Regions from separate parts of the Homo sapiens genome. Here region 1 is linked to region 2. A link means that fine-mapping ties the variant in region 2 to the expression of a gene that starts in the linked region. Tissue or cell type: whole blood. Region 2 holds a variant in brackets; the other region holds the start of a gene. All regions are shown on one strand. Distances are from middle to middle.

Region 1 (8,105 bases), 63 kb after region 2:
GAATTACAGGTGTGAGCCATCACACCCGGCCTGCTCCTAACTGGACTGTTGTCCTTTATTACTAAAAGACTGGCCCAAGTCCTAGAAACACAGTCACCAGTGGGAGCCTGTCCTGGCTGGTCCGGGCTTCTTATGAAGAAGGCAGAAAATCCTAATTTTCAAATCTGCACCTTTTTGCCATCTTTTCCCACCTTGAAAGTGAATGCAAAGAAAAGATACAGTGGTGTCACAGCAACTGTTCTCTTCCTGGCTGCAGTGTTTGGATTCAAGGAAGAGTGGCAGAGCTGGAGTTGTAAGAATGTTGAGGTTGCTACCAAATCCTGTCCCACCCATAGGGCCAAAGGGATTCAAGTAAATTCTCAGCCAAGCTTCTCATTGAGTCTGAACTGAAAGAACCACCCAGAGCAGCCAGAGTGAGACTCCACTTCCCCTGGCTGGAGCAGGCTGACCAGGGATACTGGACCAGGGTCCCCTGACTCTGCAGACTTTCTCTTCCCCTTTGTCATGCAGGAAGTCCTGGGGCCACACCAGAGCCTCACAAAACTGTCCAGAGGAAGCCAGTGGTCTGCACCCTTGGATGTCAGTGCACCCACACTGACCATATGTTTTTGATCAGGCATCCAGCCCAGACAAAGTTGAGCTCTGCGACTTTAACACCAAAAGAGTGCTCACTTCTATGAGGCTGAAGTGGATCCCGGAGACGGACCTCTCCAGTCTTGACGAGTGAGTAACATACTAATCCAAAGGGAAGACCAAATCCCCAAAGTCCAAATTTCACCACCTCCTGACTATCGATCACATTCCTTCTCTCTAGAAATGTGAAAATCATCTACCAACCTACTTATTAAAACAAGTCTAACTGCCTTAACTTCAGGATTATAGATTTGCTGATGAAATTGTTATAAATGCTCTCAAAGTTCTATTACCATCTAATTACAATTTATGCACAGCTATATAATAATGTGTGTTTTGGAAGCTGAAATAATATGTGTTTTGGAAGCCAAAAAAATTAAGCTTCAATTACTTTTGTACCTACCATGACAACAGGCAGAAACAGGACAATTTTGTATAAAGAATGTTTTTTTACATTTTTGTCCTTTTTTTTTTTGGTGTTTTCTCACAGTTCCTGTCAAGGTGAGAGGAACCAGGCAAAATGCAGGCTTAACATATACGGTCATCCCCAGGTTTTTTTTAACTATATAAAGGAGAAATTAATAAAAGAAAAAAAGAAATACCACACAGCATTTTCTTTCCCCACCATAATTTTTCAATTTTCTTTAGAGAAATGCCAGCCAATAACTAATTAGAACCATACCCTTTGTTATCCCAATGGGAAGAAGTATACGCATGGGCTTAAAGAACAAATGTTAATGAGAATTTAAAAAAAATTAGCAATCTGGAACTCTGGTTTCCCTTCAGTGTAAAACAAAATTCCCTTCTCTAGAGTTATTTTTATCATTGGCGAAATGACACGGATAGAGTCCATCCACAAGACGTGTTCACCCATCCAGTGCCCTCAGCTGGGAGAACTCCGGCTCTTCACTTGTTCTGATGGGGAAATTAGCATCATTAGCTCACGGGCTTCTAAGCACCCTAACTTCAAATGAGACAAAAACTCAGTTACAGAAAAGGCATTTGTTCCACATCTCTTTGGTTTCAAGGGGGAAAATAATTCCTTTTTTTTTTTTTTTGAGACAGAGTTTCGCTCTTGTTGCCCAGACTGGGGTGCAATGGTGCGATCTCGGCTCACCGCAACCTCCGCCTCCCAGGTTCAAGCGATTCTCCTGCCTCAGCCTCCCTAGTAGCTGGGACTAGAGGCATGCGCCACCAGGTCTGGCTAATTTTGTATTTTTAGTAGAGACGGGGTTTCTCCATGTTGGTCAGGCTGGTCTGGAACTCCCGACCTCAGGTGATCCGCCCACCTCAGCCTTCCAAAGTGCTGGGATAACAGGCATGAGCCACCGCACCCGGCAATAATTCCTTTTAAAATCAGCACGTAGCTTTTGTAATTTCCAAGAGTATGTGTTCCATAAGAAGGACAGCTGGAGTCTTTTTACCTGGTATATATCCCCGAGAAAGATCTTGAGTGGTTTGTTCACGACCAAGGAAAGAAACTACCTCCTTGAAAACTGGACTGGTTTTAGAGAATAAAGTATAGGATGTGAGTCAGAAAAACTCTGGGCCAAAAAATAAAATGTTTAAGATGCTAACGCACCAGGGTTTGGGCACGTCCAGCACTCTCAACGGTATTTTCAAATGAGAGTCTGCCCTGTGTCATCCAGGTTCTCATCATGGAGGAATCAGCAGGTCCAGGCTAGGGCCGCAGAATACTTTTTGTCATGCAAAGAGCCTGTCCAGGGTATAGAGAGCCAGCCATGGCCCATGTCCTATCAAATATTCTCCTTTTTCGGAAAAAGCTCTAAGCATTTGCAAAACATCTGTTTGCTCCATATTTTTACTATCCAAAAAATGTATTTCCTCTTCAGTAAAAAACACAACAATAGGCTGTTAAGCCTGTAACATTTTACCATAATTCTATGTTTTCAAAAGCTAGAAATCATTTGTATTGCCGGATAAGGACATTATTTTAAGTAGACTTTAGTCTACAACAGAAACTTGCCGTAACAATGAAAATGTTTTTTGGCAAATCCCTTTCTGAACATTATTTCTCCACGAACGTATCACAAAAACCACCACCAAGGAAAACAAAGGATTCTCGTATTTTGAATCAAAAAGTACTGGCCATGCATATTCATACTATATCAAGCATGTCAATCAAAATGGGCAAAATAACCTAAAAAGCAGTAAAAATGCCAACTCTTGCCTCTGAGTGGTTAGTGAACCTATGTTTTCCCAATATGAAATTTACAAACTGCATCGGATCAACTGTATTTCATACTTTAAATCTCGAATCTCTACCTCCCACTGCTTCGGGATGGATGATTTACTCAAGACATTTGGGGTCACAGTGTAAGCCTTTTGCTCCCAGTAAATCTAAATCATGCTTCTCAACAAGATTCTGCACATATAAAAGGAACACGTGGCACGCCTCGCCATGCTCCCCAGAGGAAACTAAACGCCCCCAGAATAGCCCTTCTGTCCACTCCAGAAACAGGCTTTCCTCAAAAAGGGAAAGGGGCTGGATTCACACGTTGCATCATATACACTCACGAAGCAACAGCGCTCCAAAACTTTTTCTGACTCCATTCATTACAAAATGTCCTGGATGTGCTTTATTATCACAGAGACAGACATCCTCACCCAAGGGACACACTCAGAAACCCAAACTCAACTCGGCAGCAAACTGGGAGACACGAGAAGTTGACAGCAAAGTATCCATTTCCCCAAATCCTCCTTCTTCCAGTCAATGTGCATCGATGGGGTCAGCTCAGCCCTTAACTCGAAGACCCCGGGACCACAGGGGCCACCACGCAGCTGAGCTCTGCACAGCCCGGGCTGTTCCCGCGCCCGGGAGGCGTCTGGGGAGGAGGCTGGACGGCCAGACAATGCAAAGCTCCCCGGTGGCCGCGAACTCAGCCTGGGGCGGGGGAGGCGGGGGCGGGAGACGGAGCCGTGAGCGCCCTTCTCGGCCACAGCCACGGCCACGGTCACCGGCCGCCTCTCCTGACCTCGGCCTCGGCCCCCAGGTCCCCGGTCCCCGGGGAAGGGGCTCCGGGAAGGCAGGTTTCTCCCGGAAAGAAAGGAAACGCGCTGGTTTGGGCGCCACGGGCGGGGGGCGTGCGCCCTCCCCTCCCCTCCCCTCCCCACTGTGGGAATCCGCGGGGGTCGGCGGCGGAGGCAGGAAGGGCCTGGCGCCTCTGCTCGCGGGTGAAGGGGTCGCGGAACCGGGATCCCCGAGCGCAGCCGCCCCCACCCGAGGCTCCCAGCGTGTGCGGACGGAGGGGCTCGAGCCGGGATCCCGGGGGCCGAGGGGGGTCCAACTTTCCAGGGCGGGCGCAGCGCAGCACTCGAACCAAAGAGGGGTCCTGGGATGAGGGTGCGGGCACAGCGCGGAAGGGGGGGGGGCAGAGGCGGGGACGGCGGGGTGGGGGGCGGGGAGAGGACAGTGGGTCGGGGGGCGGGGGACTGGGGGCAGGGGTCGGGGGGTGGAGGGCGGGCAGGGGGACAACGGGGTTGGCGGAGGGCAGGGGTAACGGGCGTGGGGGGCGGGCAGGGGTAACGGGCGTGGGGGGCGGGCAGGGGCCGGCGAGGCCCGCGCCGCTCACCTTCCTGTGCTTCTCCTTGTAGGGCAGCGCCAGCCACGGCATGTCCCGCACGAAGTCCTGCCACTGCCGCTGGTCCTGGTCCGAGGACACGAAGACGATCTCCAGGCGCCGCCGCGGCTCGGGCTCCGCCGCCGCCCCGGCCCCCGCTCCCGGCCCCGGCCCGGCCGCCGCGTCCCCCCGCAGGCGCCCGTAGAAGGCGGCCAGGCTGGCGCTGAGCTGCGCGCAGGGGGCGCTGAGGCTGCAGCCGAAGTAGAGACCCAGCAGCGAGATGCCGCGGGCGCCCAGCGAGTGCACGTCCACCTCCTCGCCGCCGCCCGTCACCAGCTTCTCGCCGAGCAGCTCCTCCAGGAAGCCCGACATCCTGGCCCACCGCAGGGCGGGCAGGCGGCTGCGACCCCGCTCCACGGTCCGCGCGGCGGGAGGAGGCGGCGGCGTCGGCGGCAGGCGCTGGGGAGAGCAGAGCCCGGCCCAGTAGGGCCGCCCACGCCACGCCCCCTCCGCCTGCCCGCGCCACGCCCCTTCCCCCGCCCTGCCACGCCCCCTCCGCGGCCCGCGCCACGCCCCTTCGGCTGCCCTCGCCACGCCCCTCCGCCCGCCCTCGCCACGCCCCCTCCGCCCTCGCCACGCCCCGTTTGCGGCCGGCGGTGGCCAGAGCTCTCCGCCCAGGCGGGGTCCGCAGCTGCCGGCCGCGGTGCGCGGGGTGACTGCTTGGGCGAGAAGCCGGACCCGAAACGCCGCACTCTCCCTGGAAAGCCCACGGCCGAAGTGAAGAAAGGAGAAGGGCCCGCTGAGCCGGCGCTTTCCCGGGCTGCAGCCCGGCCCGCATTTTCTCTCCTCCCCAGTTCTAAATTCCCTCCAGACCTCCAGGGATCCCGCCCCCTCCCCGCGGAGCTCTTCACCCTCTTCCTGTTCCTCCCCGGCCTTTCCCTCCTCCTCTCCCTGCACGAAGCCTGACCCTTAGGCCGCTCCGGGCCCCACTGACCCTGAGATGCTTATAGGACCCGCCGTCCTCACTGCATCAGGCCGGGCCTGGCTGGACACTGACTCCTCTGTGTGTTCCAAGCTGTTCTAAGGGGGCCGAGGACGCCCTCGCAGCTTCTGGTGGGGTCTGGTTAGGGTGCCAGGTCTCAGTGTGGGATTTCCGTCCAGGGGTCGCCGGGGCCTCTCCCCCCAGCGAATCTGTCTTCCAGCCCCACAAATGGATGCAAAGGACGCCGCGGGGCCTCCAGACCAATGCTGGCCGCGCTCCTGAATCCGCTCCATCCTCATGTCAAGTCTATGGATAGTTGAGAACATTTCTAGAGATTTTTTTTTTCCTACCAGCTGGCAGGATGCTCCCCAATGCTTAGGGAGAAGCTGGATTAAACAGGTGGTCTGGGCCGGGCGCGGTGGCTCACGCCTGAATTCCCAGCACTTTGGGAGGCCGAGGTGGGTGGATCACAAGGTCAGGAGTTCGAGACCAGCCTGGCCAATATGGTGACACCCCCCCCCCGCCTCTACTAAAAATACAAAAATTAGCGGGGTGTAGTGGCAGGCACCTGTAATCCGAGCAACTCAGGAGGCTGAGGTAGGAGAATGGCGTGAAGCCGGGAGACGGAGGCTGCAGTGAGCCGAGATCGCTCCATTGCACTCCAGCCTGGGCAACAGAGCAAGACTCCGTCTCAAAAAAAACAAAAAAACAGGTGGTCCGTGGCGAGTACTCTGGCCACGCAGCGCCTCCCCCCAACCCAACCCACTGGTGCACGAAGCAGGTGCAGATCCGGGCCCAGCCACAGTAACAGGCCGCCGGTGTGGATCAGCTACTGACGACTCAGCGAAAGCAAAAAAATAAAAGCTGAAAACCCGCCCCTCTCAGAGCTTCCACCGCCGCTTCGGAGGATATTTCCTGTGCATCCATCGCCACCTAATGGAAAGAGTGAAAAATGAGGCCGACCAAACTCCATTTGTGAAAAGACACTGCCGGGACACCAGGCACAATGCTTTTATTTTACAGCAGCTTTCCACATACACAAATGATAGGACGCTTTGCGGGAGCTAATTTAAACCTCAGAATAGAACTTCAAGCTTTTGGCACAAAACGTAAGTGTTCACATCGAAGGTTCTCCGTTTTTCTAGGGTAGAATAAGGAATGGTGCAGGGTTCCAGCTTGGTGAAATGTTACCATATAAAACAATTGGGAGAGGTGGAGATGGGAGCGGAAAGTGGACTGGCGTCTCTACAAGTTATATCCACTTCCTTAGTCACCTGCTGGTATTGCTAATGACACAGGTAAGATCTTAGATGGAGGACCGCCTTCGAACACCCTAGAATCCTACTGCAAAGTCGAATTCCACCTTAATTCTCAGGAGACTTTCATGCTGAAAGTCTGTGCCACTGTAGGGACAATATTATAAAACACACACAGAAAGCATCACTTTTTAGTGAAAACTTTATTTATTTATTTATTTATTTATTTATTTATTTTGAGACAGTGTGGGCGGCAGGCCACCCAGGCGCTGAGGCAAGAGACCGAGGACACAAGCCGTTCCAGTGTAATAAAATATAAAATAAGAATAGTTATACCAGATATAGATCTTAGATAGGCTTATATATGAATATCATTAATCATTAGTTTGTAGCAATTACTCTTTATTCCCATATTATAATGATCCTCGCTCTATAATCATAATCTAGGGAAAACCAGGCCATACAGAGATAGGAGCTGAGGGGACATAGTGAGGAGTGACCAGAAGACAAGAGTGCGAGCCTTCTGTTATGCCCAGACAGGGCTACCAGAGGGCTCCTTGGTCTAGCGGTAACACCAGCGTCTGGGAAGACACCCGTGGCCAGGCGGACTGTGGTGTAGCGGTAGCGTAAGTGTCAAGGAAAAACACCCGCTACTTAGCAGACCGGGAAAGGGAGTCTCCCTTTCCCCGGGGGGAGTTTAGAGAAGACTCTACTCCTCCACCTCTTGTGGAGGGCCTGACTGCAGGTTCGCCCACAATTATCCGGAGGCCTAACTGTCTCCCTGTGATGCTGTGCTTCAGTGGTCACGCTCCTAGTCCGCCTTCATGTTCCATTCTGTACACCTGGCTCTGCCTTCTAGATAGCAGTAGCAAATTAGTGAAAGTACTAAAAGTCTCTAATAATGGTGGAAGCTGTTTCTCTCTTTGTCTCCTCTCTCTCTCTGCCTCGGCTGCCAGGCAGGGAAGGGCCCCCTGTCCAGTGGACACGTGACCCACATGACCTTACCTATCATTGGAGATGGCTCACTCTCCTTATCCTGCCCCTTTGTCTTGTATCCAATAAATATCAGTGCAGCCTGGCATTTGGGACCACTACCGGTCTCCGCGACTTGGTGGTAGTGGTTCCCCAGGCCCAGCTGCCTTTTATCTCTTTGTCTTGTGTCTTTATTTCTACACTCTCTCGTCTCCGCACACGGGGAGAGACCCACTGACCCTGTGGGGCTGGTCCCTACAGACAGAGTCTCACTCTGTTGCCCAGGCTGGAGTGCAGTGGTGCGATCTCAGCTCCTGCAACCTCTGCCTACCAGATTCAAGTGATTCTCCTGCCTCAGCCTCTCGAGTAGCTGGGATTACAGGCATGCACCACCTCCCAAATAGCTGGGATTACTGGCATGCACTAATTTTTTTGTTTTGTTTTGTTTGTTTGTTTTTTGCAACAGAGTCTTGCTCTGTTGCCCAAGCTGGAGTGCAGTGGCGCGATCTCGGCTCACTGCAAGCTCCGCCCCTCCAGGTTTAAGCAATTCTCTGCCTCAGCCTCTGGAGTAGCTGGGATTACAGGCGTCCGCCACCAAGCCTGGCCAATTTTTTGTATCTTTAATAGAGACGGGGTTTTCACCATACTGGCCAGGCTGGTCTCAAACTCCTGGCCTCAAGT
Region 2 (8,105 bases):
GTGTTAAAACACTGCCAAAGACACCGCATCAGATTACGCTCCCCCAACCACGCGGGAGAGACCCCGTCTACATCCTTGCCAACACTGTATGTTATCAAATGTTCCTTTTGCCAGTTTAATAATCACATATTTCAAAAGTTGTACTTCTTTAATTGCAAACAGAACCAGGCATCTTTTCATGTTTATGTGTCTTTCTCTGTTCAAATTCTTTACCCAAATTGATTTTAAAAGCTCTTTATGCATTAAGAAAAAAAACAGGCCAGTGGGCAGTGGCTCACACCTGTAATCCCAGCATGAAGATTACATTTGGGAGGCCGATGCGGGCGGATCACCTGAGGTCAGGAGTTCGAGACCAGCCTGGCCAACATGGTGAAACCCCGTCTCTACTAAAAATACGAAAAATTAGCCGGGCGTGGTGGTACGTGTCTGTAATCCCAGCTACTCGGGAGGCTGAGGCAGGAGAATCGCTTGAACCCGGGAGATGGAGCTTGCAGTGAGCCAAGATTGCACCACCGCACTCCAGCCTGGGCGACAGAGTGAAACAAGGAAAGGAGAAAAGAGAAAGGAAAGGACGGAAAAAAGAAAGAAAGAAAAGAAAAATAGCACTTTTCTCTGTCATATACGTTGGAAATATCTTTTCTCACCCTAGGGTTTATCATTTGATCTGGTTTCTGGTATTTTGGACCATATAGAAGTTTTATATTACAGTCATCTCTTTTATAGTCACCAATAAAATCTAGATTAATTCTCTGAACATAAATAGAGGCTAACTTCTTATTAGGAGAAGTAAAATTGAACAGAAAATTCATGAGTCACCAAAAATCCTTCCCGATTTTGTAAAATCTGGAAAAGCCAACAGTTGATCACCAAACCACTGCCAGCTCCCAAATGACAGAACTCATCCACAGAGCACCCCCACAGCCCAGGATGGCCCATTTTCTCCTGGAGTCTGAAAAGTCCATTCGCTTGTCAGTTTTCCAGAGTCTGGGAACCCTTTTTGCCTCTAGCGCTGGCTTAGCTGTTTCAACACAGAAGTGATCACAGATGAAGATGTCGGCCCCTGCCCACAGCAGAGACTCCTCAACACGACAGACAGAGAGCAACAGGCTGAGAAAGGAGAGTCGGTCAGTTTCCCAGAGACATCGTGGCACAACAGAGACCAAAGGAAAAGAGGATAAGGAGGCAGGTTCTCCACCTACCCCCACGTCCCCAGGCAATGCAGAGACCGGGAACCGATAAAGAGGCAGGTTCTCCACCTACCCCCACGTCCCCAGGCAATGCAGAGACCGGGACCCTTCTCAGATGACTTTTCTCTCCTGGCACCTGCTCTTTCTTATCCTTGTAGTAAAAGAGCAGACAAAAATGAAGCAGAAAAAAAATGTGTAAACAATTGCCCTTTCCATCTACACTGGCATAAACTCACTTACTTAAGTGCAAGGACATTCATTATAACGGCGTGTCCTCCCAAACTCGCGGAAGATTTTTATTTTATTATTTATTTTTATTTTTATTTTTGAGACAGAGTCTCGCCCTGTCGCCCAGACTGGAGTGCAGTGGCACAATCTTGGCCTACTGCAACCTCCGGCTCCTGAGTTCAAGTGATTCTCCAGCCTCAGCCTCCCGGGTAGCTGGGACTCCAGACACCCACCACCACACCCAGCTAATTTTTGTATTTTTAATAGAGACAGGGTTTCGCCACATTGGCCAGGCTGCTCTCGAACTCCCAACCTCAAGTGACTCACCTACCTCAGCCTCCCAAAGTGCTGGGATTACAGGCGCCCGCCACCACGCCCAGCTAATTTTTGTATTTTTAATAGAGATGGGGTTTCGCCACGTTGGCCAGGCTGGTCTCGCACTCCTGACCTCAGGTGACTCGCCTACCTCAGCCTCCCAAAGTGCTGGGATTACAGGCACCCGCCACCACGCCCAGCTAATTTTTGTATTTTTAGTAGAAATAGGGTTTTACCGTGTTGGCCAGGCTGGTCTCAAACTCCTGACCTCAGGTGATCCACCCGCCACAGCCTCCCAAAGTGCTGGTATTACAGGCACAAGCTACCACGCCCGGCCAGAAGGAAGATTCTTTTTAAGGCGAGAAGTATGCAATGAGACAGTAGAGGCAAGGTCAAAGGCAAACACCGAGGTCTGTAATTGGTAGCGCAAGCAAGGTTCCTAGAGGAGACAGGAATATACACAATTCAACAAACATGTATGAAATGCTACCTTGTGCTGAGCATCGAACCAGGCGGAGACAAAGATGAGGAGCAGAGACTCGCTTCTGACCTTCAAAGAGTCCACAGTCCATTGAGTGAGGTCATTAACTCAGCAAGCGAGTTAACAGGGAGCGTACCGTGATGTGGGAAGCAAGACTGTTGGGTGTAGAGGAGGCGGAGCTGGATGTGGGGAACCAGGGCTTCCCCTGGAGGAGCTGATGAGTGCGTGGAACCAACAGCACAGGCAAATAAAGCAAGCAAGTGAGATGAGTTTTCCTAAAATATTAAAGGGGGTGAAATCGCAGACACTTGTACTGGAAAAATTTCAGAGTTGATTTTTTTTTTTAGACAAAGTCTCGCTCGCCAGGCTGGAGTGCAGTGGTGCGATCTCGGCTCACTCCAACTTCTGCCTCCCAGGTTCAAGAGATTCTCCTGCCTCAGCCTCCCAAATAGCTGGGAATACAGGCACCCGCCACAACGCCAAGCTCATTTTTTGTATTTTTAGTAGAAATGGGGTTTCACCATATTGGCCAGGCTGGCCTCGAACTTCTGACCTCGTGATAGGTCCACCTCAGCCTCCAAAAGTGCTGGGATTACAGGCGTGAGCCACTGCACCCGGCCAGTTGAGGATTTTATAGTTGAGAATAAGTGGGATTATGATTAGCATGACCTCTAGGAATTCTTTCTCTCTTTCTTTCTGAGATAGAGTCTCACTCTGTCGCCCAGGCTGGAGTCATCTCGGCTCACTGCAACCTCCACCTCCTGGGCTCAGACAATCCTCCTGCCTCCGCCTCCCAAGTAGCTGGGACTACGGGAGTGTGCCATCACACCCAGCTAATTTTTGTATTTTTTTGTAAAGACTGGGTTTTGCCATGTTGCCCAGACTGGTCTCAAACTCTTGGGCTCAGGCAATCAACCTGCCTCAGCCTCCCAAAGTGCTGGGATTACAGATATAAGACACCACACCTGGACTCTAGGAAATTATTTCTAAGAAAGGAGTAAAAGTGAGAATGAATGAGTACATAGTGTAACGCTTCCGAGCTTTGGTGCAGGAGGAAAGTAAATAACAAGGATACCCCAGGGCTGGAAACTTGGCAATAAACCAAGAAGGCAGAGACCAGTTAGTGCAACACTAAAATGCCTGACCACTTATGGGGCCAGAGCTGGGGCTTCCAGGTGAAACTTCCCCTAAAATGGGCGGCCACTTATGGTGTCAGAGCCGAAACTTCCCCTAAAATGGGCGGCCACTTATGGTGTCAGAGCTGGAACTTCCAGCTGCTCCCCCTCT[C/G]CCAGTTCTTTTGTCCTTGTCCCTAGAGTTTTGGTCTCCAAGCAATCGGTTCTGTGTTTTTGTTTGTAGGCTCAATTTTAAACCACATTTTGTAAAGGCACTTCTCAAAAGGCAAAGATAAAAACACTGAAGCTCTTAAGAGCGCCTGTCTGGCTGCCAAGCCATTGTTCTACTCAAATGTCGAATGAAAAGGGAGAAACAGAATGATGATTGTATTTGAATTGCTTCCAAGGAAAAGTAACCTCCAGCAAAACTCTAGGCCCACTTTGCTAGAAATCCTGGCACGTCGGCAACAGAAATGGAGGCAGAAAATTGCATCTTTCAGAAAGCAGAGTATCAAACAGGAAAAGCCACAAGGAGTGAGGTGCTGTGAGGTTCCCGTGGTGCAGGATCCATTTTATCCTTTCTACTTCTTCCTGCTGAAAATGAGATTATTTAAAACAATTTAAAAGACAATTTTCCCTGCAAGGGGCCTTTTGGAAATGAGTCAAAGTCAAATCCCTTGTTTTACGTAAAATTAACGTATGACATTTCAAAGTTACCAAACTAAAAAAAAGGAAAATAAATATAAACACATTCCAAAACTTAAAAATGAAGGAGATTTCAGACAGTCCCTCCTGGTAAAATGTGAAATTGCACCCCAGCTGCAGTAGCTACTGTAAATATCCAAGGAATCAGTTTTAAGTGTTTGGGGATCCCAGGGATCCCTGCAAAGCACTCAGGATTTTAACATTAAGCTCACAAATTACAGCAGCTGGCCGGGCACGGTGGCTCACGCCCGTAATCCCAGCACTTTTGGAGGCCGAGGCAGGTGGATCACCTGAGGTCTCCACTAAAAATACAAAAAACTAGCCAGGTGTGGTGGCGGACATCTGTAATCCCAGCCACTTCGGGGGCTGAGGCAGGAGAATCACTTGAACCCGGGAGGTGGAGGTTGCAGTGAGCTGAGGTTATGCCATTGCACTCCGGCCTGGGCAACAGAGAGAAACTTCATCTCTAAAAAAAAATTACAGCAACCAACAGGCCTCTAGGTTAGTTACCACCCTAACCTCTTCGTTGTAAATTTTCAAACCACCTTGAAGGTGGGTATTTTTGGTGGGTCTTTATCTTCATTCATTAATCACATTATCAGACATTCCCTGTGTGTCCTGTTCTGTTATACATGCTGAAGCTACAAATCAAACATCCGCTTTGCCTCCAACAAGATTCCCTGTTCCTAAGTGAACCAAGGAATGAGGTGTTCCACGCCTGAGCTCACATCTTTTTTTTTTTTTTCTGTAGCCCAGGCTGGAGTGCAATGGCGCGACCTCGGCTCGCCGTGGCCTCCGCCTCGCGGGTTCAAGCGATTCTCCTGCCTCAGCCTCCCGAGCAGCTGGGACTACAGGCGCCCGCCACCATGCCCAGCTAATTTTTTGTATTTTTAGTAGAGACGGGGTTTCACCATGTTGGCCAGGCTGGTCTCAATCTCTTGACCTCGTGATCCGCCTGCCTTGGCCTCTGAAAGTGCTGGGCCTCTGAAAGAACAGGCGGGAGCCGCCGCTCACATCTTTACTCATGAACCTAAACTCACAGAGCAGCCCCACACTGTCGTCTGTGGAAACCACACCAGCTCCTCCTCTTCCTTCTGGACCTGCTGTCCCACCCTACGCCCATTTTTTATCTCCACCCACTCTTTGAACTTAGCACTGGTGTCTACAGGCTCGATTCCCAGCTCTCCCACAAGGACGTGGCTCAGACGCACGTCACCATCTCAACCCAATGTAGGCCACCCGCTGCAGGCGAGCTTCCCTACCCAATCCGACCTCCTAGACGGACACCCCAGGTTCCAGCCCTACAAGGGGCGCGTACTGGCACAACAGGCGGGCGTGGCTCTCGCTCCCCAGGAAGGCCTCGCAGAGGTGGGGACAAGGGCGGATGGGAAAGGGGATAAGCGACAGGAGAGGGGGGACTCCCGTTCCAAACAAAGGGGACTGCGTACTGGTGAAGAAGAATGTGGTCTGTATTCAGTTTTGTTGACAAGAACCCCTAATGGATAATAATAAAATGTTTACTGAGCTCGTACTTTATGGAAGACACATGGCTCACGGCAGGGCCCGGCACATCACAAAAACTCACTCCGTATTTGCAGCATAAAGGAAATCTCAGTTTCAGTTTTAAAAGTTGTGTGTCTAAACCAGAAAATAACTCATAACATGATCCTACTAAGAAGATGGGCCAAAAACAGACAAAAGAAACACGAGAACACTCAATATCACCTCCCCCAAAACAACACAGCATTTTCCTCCTGTAATCAAACAATCACAAACCAGGCTGTGCTGGGCCTGGCCGTTGTGCCAGAAACAGCCCCAGAACCCTGGGCCCAAAGGGGTCTGGTCTTGATTAAGATTATTTTCCTTTGTAACGTTCGGTTTGGAGGAAAAGGCGGGAGGGTCGGAAGGAAATGGGAGGAGCGCACGATCCATCAGCGAGTTTCATCGCAGCGTTTCATCTCCTTCGTGAACTGGGCTCAGGGAGGCCGTGACTCCCATTTCCATTTGGCTCCCGAGTCAATCACTCACTTTCATTCCAGCTACTTTTTGTCTTAATTTCTTGACTTAAAAAGGGTTTGGTTGAGGCCGGGCGCAGTGGCTCATGCCTGTAATCCCAGAAAGTGAGGCCGAGGCGGGCGGATCACCTGAGGCCAACAGTTCAAGAGCAGTCTGGCCAACACGATGAAAACCTGTCTCTACTAAAAATACAAAAATTATCCAGGCGCGGTGGTGGGCGGCTGTAATCCCAGCTACTCAGGAGGCTGAGGCACGAGAATCGCTTGCACCCGGGAGGCAGAGGCTGCAGTGAGCTGAGATCGCGCCACCGCACTCCAGCCTGGGAGACAGAGACTCAGTCTCAAAAAAAAAAAAAGGCCGGGGGTGGGGGGGCGGGTGTTTGTTGAATCCTTGGTGAATTTAAGGACTCAGAAAACAAAGTAAGTTAAACTACGTTTCCACAGCCTCCTTCCTCATTAAAAATGTCTCTGCAGCCAGGCAAGGTGGCGTGCGCCTGTAGTCCCAGCTACTCGGGAGGCTGAGGCGGGAGGATCACTTGAGGCCAGGAGTTTGAGGCTGCAGTGAGCTATGATTGCACCACTGCACTCCAGCCTGGGCAACAGAGTAAGACCCTATTGCTTTAAAAAAAAAAAATGTTTCAGCCAGGCTCGGTGGCTCACACCTGTAATCCCAGCACTTTGGGAGGCTGAGGGTGGATCACGAGGTCAGGAGATCGAGACCATCCTGGCTAACATGGTGAAAGCCCGTCTCTACTACAAATACAAAAATCAGCCGGGCGTCATGGCGGGCACCTGTAGTCCCAGTTCCTTGGGAGGCTGAAGCAGGAGAATAGCTTGAACTAGGGAGGCAGAGGTTGCAGTGAGCCGAGATTGTGCCACTGTACTCCAGCCTGGTGACAGAGTGAGACTCTGTCTCAAAACAAAACAAAAAAAAGGTTCTGGAATGATTATTCCAATTAAACAGCTTTTATTACAATACTCTGTCAATGCAGGGCAATCATTCCTTAAGATGCTAGAAAACGTGTTATTGTAACACGAGGAAAAAGCCCTGTAATCTCAGCACAACCAGAAATTAAAGTGGCAGTTTTGGGAGGACGCAGTCAAACGGCTTTCTACAGCACCTCCTCGTATCGTGGGTTACAGAACCTACGTCGTCCTCGGAATCCCCGCATTCGTCCCACGCGGCCCTCAGACACGGGCTCTGGTTCAAGGTGGGAGACAGAGACAACACCAATCAGCCCTTACCAGGCAGTGCGTGGCTCCAGAACAACAACTGAAAATAATATTGGAACGCAGTCCAGAAAATACAACTAGGGGCAGAGCGGTCCGGCACAAAACACCAGGAAACGCTCTCCCTTCCATCATTCAATCTTGGCGGACCACACTGGTATGCGACCTCATCTAGCTACATAGCTACACCTCCCTCTTGTCACCTTGCAGACTGGTATTCACTAACCCCCAGGCCATGGCGGAAAATGTACCTTCCATCTCTCTCTGCCTCAGCCCCCACCGGCACCCTTGGTGCCTTCATCACCCATCCAGAGCAACTACCCACTTCCACGGCCTCCTCCATGTGAGGACCTCCGCCTCCAACTCTCTTCGAGCCACCACGCGGTGCAAATGTTTGTATTTTTGGTGGAGACAAGGTTTCGCCATGTTGCCCAGGCTGGTCTTGAACTCCTGGGCTCAAGCGATCAGCCCATCTCAGCCGCCCAAAGTGCTGGGATGACAAGCACGAGCCATCACGCCCAGTCTACACCCCGAAATCCAACATTACAAACTTATCAATGCTGCCTCCTGTCATCTCCCCCCGCCCCTGGCTCCCGCTTTGACCTGGAGGAATCTGGCAACGTCAACATCAAGTGATTGTTCAAATTCAGCCAAGGGGGCCGATGAGGTGCCCATGTGGCTCTCCTCCCAGCCCCGAGCGCCTGGGGATACCTAGGCCCTCCTGTCATGCCCCAAGGCCAATGTAGCCTTGGGGATGCCGAGCCTGCCTGATCCCAATTCCTCCAGCGTTCTCCTCCCAGGGTTCCGCTCCCTCCCCAAGTGACCAGCCCTC

Evidence for each region. PIP is the estimated chance that this variant, and not a neighbour inherited with it, causes the effect.
Region 1: it holds the start of NXN, and the variant in region 2 is fine-mapped to the expression of NXN in whole blood (TOPMed, PIP above 0.99).

What each region holds. Positions count from the first base shown.
Region 1 is chr17:975,093-983,197 of GRCh38, forward strand. NXN (nucleoredoxin) reads right to left here and starts at 4,684. Exons shown (of 8, transcript NM_022463.5): 1 at 4,227-4,684. The coding sequence starts at 4,586. RefSeq lists enhancers at 3,597-4,532, 5,957-6,251.
Region 2 is chr17:912,403-920,507 of GRCh38, forward strand. The region is part of intron 1 of NXN (nucleoredoxin); the gene reads right to left. Among named protein-coding and RNA genes, the nearest start is that of NXN, 63 kb to the right of the region's middle. RefSeq lists an enhancer at 6,127-6,644. The variant C/G (reference allele first, on the strand shown) is at 3,499.